3 linked regions of the Homo sapiens genome follow. The protein of the gene in region 2 purifies or fractionates together with the protein of the main gene of each other region. This does not show direct contact. Each region holds a gene or a part of one and is shown on either strand. Other genes may lie near its edges. The genes, in order: HRG, JADE3 and KAT6B.

Region 1 (4,439 bases), on a different chromosome or scaffold from region 2:
GAAACCTAGCGGGTTTTTTTTTATGTATTAAAGCTATATATTTATTACTTAAACAGAATTCCTGTTCCTCTCACTGTCTTTGCAGATGCTCTACCTTTGCGTCATTTGATCTATTGATTCCAATACATAGCTTCAATGAGTTATTTCCAAATCTTTTTAAGTGGTCCTGATTTGTCTTCTGCCCATAAACTTGAAGAAGCTATCACTAAACGGCAGTGGTGGTTTAGCGGAGGCATCATCACCTACGCATGCCTGGAAGTATAAGTCATGACGACCTCATCAGGGCCTCCAATCTGTCCTTGTAGTTGTGTCCTCTTGCCCAGCTCTATTACTGATCATGGGATTTTCTGCTTTGATGTTGCTTTGCCCAAAGCTAAATCCTCTCTCTTCTCTTACAAACTAGCTGCCCTCTCCACTTCCCTCGTCTTTGTCAGTGGCACCACTAACAACATATTGCCTTAGACTCTGGGGTAAAACATGTAAACCTACGAGATGTTTTCCTTGTCCTTGCTTTTGCTATCCAGTACCAGGCCCTGAATGGTCTTTCTTGGCAACGTCTCTCATGTCTATTCCTCAGTCTCATTGCCCTGACTCCCACTAACCCAGGTCTGACCCTTGTTCTTTCATTCCTGAATACATAAATAGCTTTCTACTTCATGTCCCTGTCTCTTGCCTCAGTTTCCCCAGGCACATCAGGACCCCTCCCCATCCACCCGCTCTCTATGCTAGCTCTCAGAGGCAGCTCTGTGCTGATGCATCCTATGCCCTAACATGTGTTGATGAGCCTGGCATGGGACTAATGGTCACTGAATTACTGGTTGAATCCTAAACTCCTGCACACCTGTTCTCTGCAACCCACAGTGCCTCCCTCTGTGATACTTTCAGAAGGGTAAATTGTCCTCTGTAGTACTCCTTGTCTGGCCTCCCTAATTTCAGTTTTTCCATCAGAGGGAGAGTAGGTTATTTGGGGAGCTTAGAGGCAGGCTTCATGTCTCTCTATAATGTCTATCGGCTCCTCTAGTCCAGTTTAGGTAGGCGTGTAATCTAAGCGAAGACAGTAAGCTTGTTTCACCTCAAGACAAGCCCACAGGCTTGGCTCCTACCTGATGCCTGCTCCAGAGCCCACATGGAACTTCTGGAACCCACCTGCTTATATTCAATGGCTCCCTAACACCCTTCTTCCTGATTCCATACCCACCTAGAAGTGGTGGTGCCAGGAATTCACCAGGAACACATTTACCCAGACCTGTTCAAATCCTACCCATGCATCATTACACAGCAGAAGCCTCCTCCCATCCAGTCTTACTAGATCTCCCCTCATTAAATTGCTCCAGTACATTTACCACTCCTTTGGTCACTTGGCTATTGTTGGGGCTCAGAACATGGTATCTCAAAGTATGGTACTTTTGGCGTGCTGAGTCCTTTGAACTGAAGAAAATGGGAAGGGCCTCAGAAGCCAGATCTGTCTGACCTTCTGCCCTTTGTTCTCCTACTCTGCTTTCTCCCCCAAGGCAAGCCATAGAAACTAAAATTTCTCTTCTCCAGGACAGTCACAGATGGTAGAATCCCTCTCCCCGAAAGCATCCATAAATCCTAAAATATGAATCTAACCTTCCCCCTGTGTCTTTCTTTGTAGGAGCTGGCCATAAAGACATTCTCTGACCTACTCTGTTTGATAGTAGGTCCTCAGATCCGCATTCCAAAGGGATCCTGTCCCATACTTGGGAGCAAGAAATGCCACACAGAGAGGCCATGAAGAACTCAAACAGAGAGGCCTTGCTGGGTCCTTCTTTCAGTCTATGACTCTTAGATTACAGCCTTTTGTCCCATCACACTTCTGCATTCTGCACAGCCTTTGTGAATTCTAAGTATGCAAGTGGCCAGTTTCTTTGGATATCTGAGTCTTCATTTATGAAGACTCCAGTGTCAGGTAAACCTTGGATTAAATAAATTTGTATGTTTTCTTCTTCTTCTTTTTTTTTTTTGAGATGGAGTCTAGCTTTGTTGCCCAGGCTGGAGTGCAGTGGCATGATCTCGACTCACTGCAACCTCTGCCTCCCGAGTTCAAGCGATTCTTCTGCCTCAACCCCCTGAGTAGCTGGGATTACAGGCGTGCACCACCATGCCCAGCTAGTTTTTGTATTTTTAGTAGAGACAGGGTTTCACCATGTTGGCCAGGCTGGTCTTGAACTCCTGACCTCATGATCCGTCCGCCTTGGCCTCCCAAAGTGCTGGGATTACAGGCGTGAGCCACCGCGCCTGGCCTTGTCTACCAGTTTTATTTCAGGCTCAGTTAGGAGCCTTAGGAGGGTTGAGAAAACTTTTCCTTCTCTCTAGTTTATCCTAGTAACTTACACTGTTTGCCTGTATGTGCCAGTGTATTATTATTTCCTGGAGGCCAAGGCCCATAGCTTATTCTAATGTTTCTCTGGCAGTCCTTAGCATGTAACTGGGCTCAGCATAAATGCTTATATGTACCCACAAATCGAATCATAGTTGCGGGTACACTAATAACAAATATTAGTTTGAAGGAAAAAAGAACAATTTAGAGCAGCCGCAGAAGCCAAACAAAAAACTCTGACCAAAGCCATTCATTGTGCAAAGCAGTAAGCCTAGGGGGTAGAGTCACATTTGCCCCCGTGAGTAATCTCCCAACTCAGCTCTGCCATTGGCAATTCCTCACCACTCTGTCCAAGTGGGCATCAGCAATCCGCAGCAATTGGAAAAGGTAGCCATCCCGTCGCCTTTTATTGATCAGGTCTAGAGCTTTCTCAGCCTCCGGCTCAACAGCACTGCAGTCAGTGGGACTCACGGCACACGAATACTGCAATGTGATCAAAAGCAGTGCTGCAATGAGTGCCTTCATTTTGTTAAACCATCCCTTGCTATGATCTGCCACTGCAGAGAATTTTATACAGACTTTCTGAAACACACGCAATTGATTAAACAAAACCTTGATACATTTTTGTTGTGTAACTGAGGGTGTTCACCTTGACCCTGGGTTCAAATAACCATCAACAAGCTGTAAATGATTAGTGGGTCCTGGGGGCAGAAAGCTGAGAAATGCTGATGAGTGGGTGGAACTGTGATCTGCACAAATCTGGATTTTTCTAGTAGATAGCAGATCTAAAGTACGTCTTTGAATATAAGCAGTGCCTATGTTGGTGTAGGGGGTGGGGCTAGGGGTAATTTTCCTCCATCTGCCTGCCTGTCTCAGCTGGAAATCTCCATCATCAGTCAGTGGACTGATGGATCATGGCACTAAAACTCCTCAGTAGAAGGCAGCTGCATTATCTAAGCGGGGGAACATGTTAAACAGGTACCATTATAAAAGGAATGACTTCAGGTAAAATAGAACAATGAAGAGGCTGTCGTTTTGAAGTCAAATCTGAATTTCTCACCTGGCTCTATTACTTTCTTACTGTGTAATGCTGGGTAAGCAACAAAACTTCTCTGATAGTTCCCTCATTTACGAAATATGGATTGATACCTCTTGGCAGGCTTGTGTGATAATTAAATAAGAAATCAGGCTGGGTGCGGTGGCTCATGCCTGTAATCCCAGCACTTTGGGAGGCCAAGGCAGGCTGATCACAAGGTCAGGAGATTGAGACCAGCCTGGCCAACATGGTGAAACCCTGTCTCTACTAAAAATACAAAAAATTAGCTGGGCATGGTGGCACATGCCTGTAATCGCCGCTACTTGGGAGGCTGAGGCAGGAGAATCACTTGAACCCGGGAGGCGGAGATTGCAGTGAGCTGAGATCGCGCCACTGCACTCCAGCTCGGGCGACAGTGTGAGATTCCATCTAAAAAAGAAAGAAAGAAAAAAAGAAAGCAACCAGTATAATTCTTGGCATAGAGTAGATGCTGAATAAGTGATGCTATTTATTATTAGTGTGCCTGCAAAGAAGTTGGGGACACCTCATGCCACCCCAATTCCCTGCAAAAAGAATTGATTCACGTGGAAGAGGATGGTGGTGAGAGTAAGAGTCAAATAGTTGGATGCCCATCCCACTGTTAGAAGGGATCAGCAGGGGGGGACTGGGCTATGATACAGCTGACCCCCTACCTTCACACTTCAGAAGAAACCCGTATACCTATATGCAACCCTCAGACCAGCAGAGCCAGCAGCATCAGAAGGGACCAGAGGGAATCAGCCTAGGTTCCGTCCTCACTGCCAAGAAACAGCCAGTTAGGCAGCATCTCCATTCCTCCCTGTTCTATCCGCAGTGAGTGTCTGTGAGAGTCTGCAGTCATGTCTCTCAGACTCGGCTTCATGTTAGAATCACCCCAGGAGCTTTAAAAAGTCCTGATGTCAAGGACTCCTCCAGGACAATTTAATCAGAATCTCTGGGAGTGGACTTTGGTATTGGTAGTTTTTAAACTCCTAGGTAATCCAGTGTGTGCAGTCAAGGTTGAGAATTACTGGGATTCTAGAG
Region 2 (3,650 bases):
TGTTAGAATTAAATGAATTAATATTTATAAAATGCTTAGGACAGTGTTGGCAATAATAGTAATAGTAGGTGCTATATGTGAGTGTCTTAAATTTTTAAAAGTGAGCCAAATCTATTAGTTCTCTTTCAAATTCTGGTAGCAGAGAAAAAAAAACACAAGCCATTTATAGATTTACATTTAATTAGAAAATTCTCTAGGATAAACACAGGGCTTAACTTACCTTTGAAGCCCTGCAGTATCTCATTTAGTAGATACCTGATAAATATACCATGAGTTATATTGAATTATCATGTGGAGTGGCTCTCAACTGGAGAGCAAATTTGGTAATTTGCAGACATTTTTGGTTGTCACGCTGGGGGTGTGTGTGCGGGTGCTACTGGCATCTAGTGGGTAGAGGCCAGGGATGCTGGTAAACATCTTAAATTGCCCCTACAACAAAGGACAGCCCCCTAACAACAAACAACTATCCAGTCCAAAATGTCAACAGTGCCAAGTTTGTGAAACTCTAATTTGGTGTTTTCCTGAACAAAATTCACTCTTTCTTCAGCCTAAAGTCTCATAAATATGTCAGTAAAATATGGATGGGCCAATTTAGGCTCAACAGTGAATAAAAAGTAAACCAAATGAGAGTTTATTTCAAATGTAAAGTTCATAGAGCATATACCCGAGGCCTCCCAAATCCCCTGGATGTGCCTGTCAGAATTTACACAGAGCCCAATGTCTGGGGCCATAAAGAGATCAGAAGATAAGCAAGGACACAGAAGCCCACACTATTATGAGCTGACTGACCATTATTAAACCAGAAGTGGGACCTCCATTTCTACACAGACCGAGGCCTATATACTAGTCACAGCTGGTCACCTTACCCTCTCCAGGTCCTGGCGTAGATGCATAAACATTCTCATTCGAGTGTGAATGCTTTCCTCTTTTGGCTGCACCAGCCCATTTTCTTCATCCTCCTTTGGAGGAAATAATGGCTTATTGAAGTTACTTTTCCGCTTCAGTTTCCAGTAGTTATAGATAAAGTCCACAGCTAGCGTGGGCATACCCAGCTCTGCGGCCACATCTTCCACTCGTACCAAGGAATAGAACTCCTCCTCCAGCTCCCGAAGCTTCTGTGCCCGCAGGCTGGTTTTCTCACTTTTGGCCTGGCTCTGCTCTTTAGCCCTGTGGTGGGGGTACTCAGCTTCTCCAAGTTTCTGCCTGTTTTGGCTATGCTTGAGGCAATATGACTTGAACTTCACTTCGTCTCCCTCATCTAGGATGGTCTTCATCTCTAGGCCGTGCTCAAAGGCACAGGTGACGTGGAAGGCAGTGATGCAGCTTTTTATAGAGCACTGTAGGAAGAAAATAGGTGTCAAGGTAGCAGAGTTGGAGGAAAAGGGAGAGACCTATGTTTCTGGACCTAAATTGATAGCTTGTAGGAAGCAAAAGAAAGACCGGGAGAAAGTTAGTCCTAAACTGACCATAACAGATGCTTTACAAGTAACCCAAGAAACCTGTTCTTACAGAAAACAGCAAACACAGAGGCCAAAAATAATTCAAACACTCCTTTTGAGGTTTCAGCTCAAGCATTCAAGCATCAAGTTTTCTGAGATGCTTTCCTGGGCTCCTGTAAACAGTCATGTAGTCTCTTCTCTGTGTCTCCCACATCACCCTATGAATGCTTTTAAAATGGTACTTTTCACACTGTACCTATAACAATTGTCAAGTCCTTAGGGATAGATCTTAAAAACAGAAGCTGTGTCTTTCATTTTGCATCGTCATTAACTATTGAAGAAGCAGTTGCTCAGAAAATGTTTCTAAACAAACAAAAGAAAACACACAAAGTGAGTATTATTGCTAGAGCATCCACTGGTTCTAAAAAAGTCATAGGAATTCCAATATCTAAGTAACCTAACTTCTTGAATTTTTTTTTTAAACATAAAAATTTTAGGCCAGAGCACAGTGGCTTACGCCTGTGATCCCAGCACTTTGGGAGGCCAAGGCAGGTGGATCACTTGAGGCCAGGAGTTCGAGACCAGCTTGGGCAACATGGCGAAACCCTGTCTCTACTAAAAATACAAAAGCTTTCTGGGCATGGTGGTGCATGTCTGTAGTCCCAGCTACTTGGGAGGCTGAGGCATGAGAATTGCCTGAACCCGGGAGGTCCAAGCTGCAGTGAGCCGAGATCACACCAATGTACTCCAGCCTGGGCAACAGAGTGAGAACCTATCTCAAAAAGAATTTTTTAAAATATTTAAAAATAGAGAATCTATGTTGCTCAGGCTGGTCTTGAACTCCTGGGCTCAAGTGATCCACCAGCCTCAGCCTCCTAAAGCGTTGGGATTACAGGTGTGAGCCACCATGCCCCGTGAAATTGTTGTTATAGAACTGAGCTGTCCAACTTGGTGGCCAAGTAGCCATGAGTGGCTATTTCATTTTTTAAAAAAATTTTTTTAGACGGTGTCTCACTTTGTCACCCAGGCTGGAGTGCAGTGGTGCAATCTCGGCTCACTGCAACCTCTGCCTCCCAGGTTCAAGCAATTCTCCTGCCTCAGCCTCCCGAGTAGCTGGGATTACAGGCATGTGCCACCATGCCCGGCTAATTTTTGTATTTTTAGTAGAGATGGGGTTTCACTATGTTGGTCAGGCTGGTCTCAAACTCCTGACCTCAAGTGATTTGACTGCCTTAGCCTCCCAAAGTGCTGGGATTACAGGTGTGAGCCACTGCGCTTAGCCTTAAATTTAATTAAAATTATGTATAATTAAAAAATTTAGTTTCTCAGTCACAGTAGCCACATTTTAACTACACTAGACAGCACAGACATAAAACATTTCCATCACTGTGGAAAGTTTTTTTTTTTTTTTTTTTTTTTTTTGAGACAGAGTCTCACTCTGTTGCTGAGGCTGGAGGGCAGTGGCACAATCTCGGCTCATTGCAACCTCCACCTCCAGGGTTCAAGTGATTCTCCTGCCTCAGCCTCCCAAGTAGCTGGGACTACACGTGCCTGCCACCACACCTGGCTAATTTTTTTGTATTTTTGGTAGAGACAGGGTTTCACTATGTTGGCCAGCCTGGTCTCGAATGCTTGGCCTCAGGTGATCCGCCCGCCTCAGCATGCCAAAGTGCTGGGATTACAGGTGTGAGCCACTGTGCCTGGCCCACTGTGGAAAGTTCTATTGAACAATATGGTTACAGACAATCTGAAATTAAGTTTATAATATTCTGCCATTCAGTCATAGATTTAACACATTTATTAAGCATTACTATGCAGTATGTACTGACTATTCATAGGGGGGGGCAAAGGGGGAAGGACCTGGCCCATGACTACTATACTCCTGTGCTTCAGTTAGCCTTAATTACTATTTGTTATGGTTACAATGTTACAGCTTTCCTTCCAAAGACTGACTGATTGATTGAGACTGGGTCTCACTCTGTTGCCCAGGCTGGAGTGCAGTGGCGCGATTTTGGCTCGCTGCAACCTCTGCCTCCCAGGCTCAAGTGATCCTCCCACCTTAGCCTTGTGAGTAGCTGGGATTATAGGCGTGCGCCACCAAGTCCTGCTAATTTTTGTATTTTAGTAGAGACGGGGTTTCACCAATTAGCCAGGCTGGTCTCAAACTCCTGACCTCAAATGATCTGCCCACCTCGGCCTCCCAAAGTGCTG
Region 3 (3,650 bases), on a different chromosome or scaffold from region 2:
GATTACAGACATGTGCCCAGCTAATTTTTGTATTTTTAGTAGAGGTGGGGTTTCGCCATGTTGGCCAGGCTGGTCTCAAACTCCTGACCTCAGGTGATCCACTCACCTCGGCCTCCCAGAGTGCTGGGATTAAATAAATAGTTTTATGTGGCTGGGTGTGGTGGCTCACGCCTGTAATCCCAGCACTTTGGGAGGCCGAGGTGGATGGATCACGAGGTCAAGAAATCAAGACCATCCTGGCCAACATGGTGAAACCCCATCTCTACTAAAAATACAAAAAATTAGCTGGGCATGGTGGCGGGCGCCTGTAGTCCCAGCTGCTCAGGAGGTTGAGGCAGGCGAATCACTTGAACCTGGGAGGCGGAGGTTGCAGTGAGCTGAGATTGCACCACTGCACTCCAGCCTGGCGACAGAGCGAGACTCTGTCTCAAAAAAAAAAAAACAAAAAAAAAAGAAAAATATTTTATGTAAGTAGGGATGTGTAAGCTGTAGTGATCAGTCTTTGTTGCAGAATGGTAAATGATGCGTGGATGAGAGAAGTGGGGTGATGGGATATTTCTTCCCTTTAATGCCTTAATTTGCATTTCCAAAGCACCTTTAAGCATCTTTTTATAGAACTCCCATGATCTTCTGATACCTGTCTTCTCGCAGACCCCAGAAAGAGAATACACCAATTTTCGTATCATCTATTCCATTGTTGCCGAATATTTGAGTTGTTTCAAGTTTGGGGCAATTGTGAACAAAGCTGCTATGAGCATTCCTATACCTGTCATCTGGTGCCCATGTGCACAAGTTTCTCTAAGGTATACACCTAGGAATGAAATTGCCGGTTTATAGCTAGGGTGACCATTTGTCCTGGTTTTTGCTTATTTTCCCAGCGTAACTGTAACACTTTTAGTTTTCAAAAGTATCTAGGGTTAGATGATGAATTGTATGGTCACCTAGTCATAAGGTATGCTTGTCTTCATCTTTACTAAGTACCAAACTCTTCTAAAGTATTGTACCAGGTTACACTCCCTCCAGCAATATATGAATTCCCTTGCTTCTCGCCCTCTCCAATCTCAGCCTTTTTAGCTTTTATGATTTTAGCCAATATGGTAAATTTTGCGTTTACCTGATTAGTAATCAGATTGCACAGCTCTTCATATATATATATATATATATATATATATATATATATATTTTTTTTTTTTTTTTTTTTTTTTTTTTTTTTTTTTGAGACGGAGTTTTGCTTTTGTCACCCAGGCTGGAGTGCAGTGGCGTGATCTTGGCTCACTGCAACCTCTGCTTCCTGGGTTCAAGCGATTCTCCTGCCTCAGCCTCCTGAGTAGCTGGGATTACAGGTGCCCACTACCACAACCAGCTAATTTTTTGTATTTTTAGTAGAGATGGGGTTTTGCCATGTTGGGCAGGCTTGTTTCAAACTCCTGATCTCAGTTGACCCGCCCGTCTTGGCCTCCCAAAGTGCTGGGATTACAGGCGTGAGCCTCTGCACCCGGCCAGCTCTTCATATACTTTTTTAGCCATTTAGATAGCCTCATTTATAAAGTTCTGTTCAAGTCTTTCCCACCCTGCTTTTAAAAGTTGGGCCTTGTATCTTTTATTGCTATTTAGAAGTTCTTTATTTACTGTGAATACAAGTCCTTTGTCATGTGTGTGTGTTGCAAATACTGTGGCTTGCCTTTTCACTCTCTTTATGGTGTCTTTTAATGAACAGAAGTTCTTAATTTTAATGGAGTCAAATTTATTGGTCTTTACTTTATGGTTAGTGCCTTTTGTGTCTTGTTTTAAGACTTTTCCTACCCTGAGGTCAATAAGATATTCTCCTATGCAGTACTATCTTTTTAAAGCTTTGTTGACCTTAAACAATGTATAACTATGAGTAAAATACACTCTTCTTGACCCCAGCCTCACCATTACAATCTATTTTTGCTTTCCTTCACTTTTTTCTGTTCTCTGTCTTGAATTTTTACTTCTCTGCAGCTATAACTAAGAGCCAGGTGCTGACTTCTCCTGTCTCTTAGGAGAAAATGGTCATATAGACAGAAGTTCAGCCAGATTAGATTTTACAGGTCTCCAGCTGACTGTATTGCCCTTTTTCCTTTTATGAGCTAGCATTTTATTGTGTTCCTGCTATGTGTCTGCCATCATCCTTGCTGCTTTCATATTTGTTATCTCAGTGATTCCTCTTAACGGTTCTGTAAAACAGAGAAGTATTCTCATTTTTACAGAAGAGAAAACAGAGACTTAGATTGATTTAGTAGCATGTCCAATATCCCCTAGCCTAGGTAGCTAGCAGAATGGGGACTGGATCCCTGACTCTGATACTTCCCATCACAGCACACCTACTTGTTGATTAAAATGTCAGAAACCTGTTTTTTGATAACATCCAAAACCAAAAAGAATAACTTTCTTACTCTTGATGTAACATGCCTTAAGTAAAGCACACAAAGCTAACTATTGTGAAACTGGATAAAATACCTCTCTGTATATAGCCAGTGGACCTTAAGTGGTCCATGGCTGGATGACAGAAGGTCTGTTAACCCTTAAAAATGTATACCAGTGTATATGGGTACATGTGCTTATTTTTTAGAGTAGAGCTATAATATTTATGAAACTCTCAAAAGGGAACCTGAATTTTTCAGGGTATCTGGATATCTGGTCTGAAGACATCTGTAATACAGTTAACAAAGAATCCTGTAATAATCTCTCTTTCAAAAGAATCATAAAAAAGTTAAGATGTCAGATTTTTCTCAGCCAGGTGCAGTGGCTCATGCCTGTAATCCCACTACTTTGGGAGGCTACAGTGAAAGGATCCCTTGAGCCCTGGAGTTCAAGACATGCCTGGGCAACATAGGGAGACCCCCGCCTCTATTTTTATTTATTTATTTAGATTTTTTGGTATCTTCATTTTATCTTATTTATTTTGTTGAGATAGAGTTTTGCTCTTGTTGCCCAGGCTGGAGTGCAATGGCGTAATCTTGGCTCACTGCAACCTCCACCTCCTGGGTTCAAGCAATTTTCCTGCCTCAGCCTCCCAAAGAGCTGGGATTACAGGCATGCGCCACCACGCCTGCTAATTTTTTGTATTTAGTAGAGATGGGGTTTCACCATGTTGGCCGGGCTGGTCTCAAACTCCTGACCTCAGGTGATCCACCTGCCTTGGCCTGTCGAAGTGCTGGGATTATAGGCATAAGCCACCAAGCCTGGCCTTGTATCTCTATTTTAAAAAGTTTTTTAAAAATCACATTTTTTGGCCGGGCATGATGGCTCATGCCTGTAATCCCAGCACTTTGGGAGGCTCAGGCAGCTGGATCACAAGGTCAGGAGCTCGAGACCAGCCTGGCCAACATGGTAAAACCCCGTCTCTACTAAAAATAAAAACAACAACAACAAACAAACAATGGCATGGTGGCATGTGCCTGTAATCCCAGCTACTCAGAAGGCTGGGGCAGGAGAGTCGTTTGAACCCGGGAGGCGGAGGTTGCAGTGAGCCGAGATCACGCCATTGCACTCCAGCCTGGGCAACAGGGCAAGACTCTGTCTCAAAAAAAAAAAAAAAAAAAAAAAAATCACATTTTTTCCCTTAATACATTATTCTCGGTCTTTGTCATCAAAAACCAACTAAAGCTAATTTGTAATTAGGGAGA

Evidence for each region.
Region 1: the proteins of JADE3 (region 2) and HRG purify together in Homo sapiens (affinity purification with mass spectrometry, with the first as the bait; one large-scale study listed by BioGRID). This does not show direct contact.
Region 3: the proteins of JADE3 (region 2) and KAT6B purify together in Homo sapiens (affinity purification with mass spectrometry, with the first as the bait; one large-scale study listed by BioGRID). This does not show direct contact.

The regions. Positions count from the first base shown.
Region 1 is NC_000003.12:186,664,459-186,668,897, reverse strand, and holds the start of HRG (histidine-rich glycoprotein precursor), read right to left. Parts: upstream 2,885-4,439; 5' UTR 2,867-2,884; coding exon 2,684-2,866; intron 1-2,683. UniProt on the Homo sapiens protein: Plasma glycoprotein that binds a number of ligands such as heme, heparin, heparan sulfate, thrombospondin, plasminogen, and divalent metal ions. Binds heparin and heparin/glycosaminoglycans in a zinc-dependent manner.
Region 2 is NC_000023.11:47,051,845-47,055,494, reverse strand, and holds part of JADE3 (protein Jade-3), read right to left. Parts: intron 1,338-3,650; coding exon 867-1,337; intron 1-866. UniProt on the Homo sapiens protein: Scaffold subunit of some HBO1 complexes, which have a histone H4 acetyltransferase activity.
Region 3 is NC_000010.11:74,829,588-74,833,237, forward strand, and holds part of KAT6B (histone acetyltransferase KAT6B), read left to right. Parts: intron 1-3,650. UniProt on the Homo sapiens protein: Histone acetyltransferase which may be involved in both positive and negative regulation of transcription. Required for RUNX2-dependent transcriptional activation. May be involved in cerebral cortex development.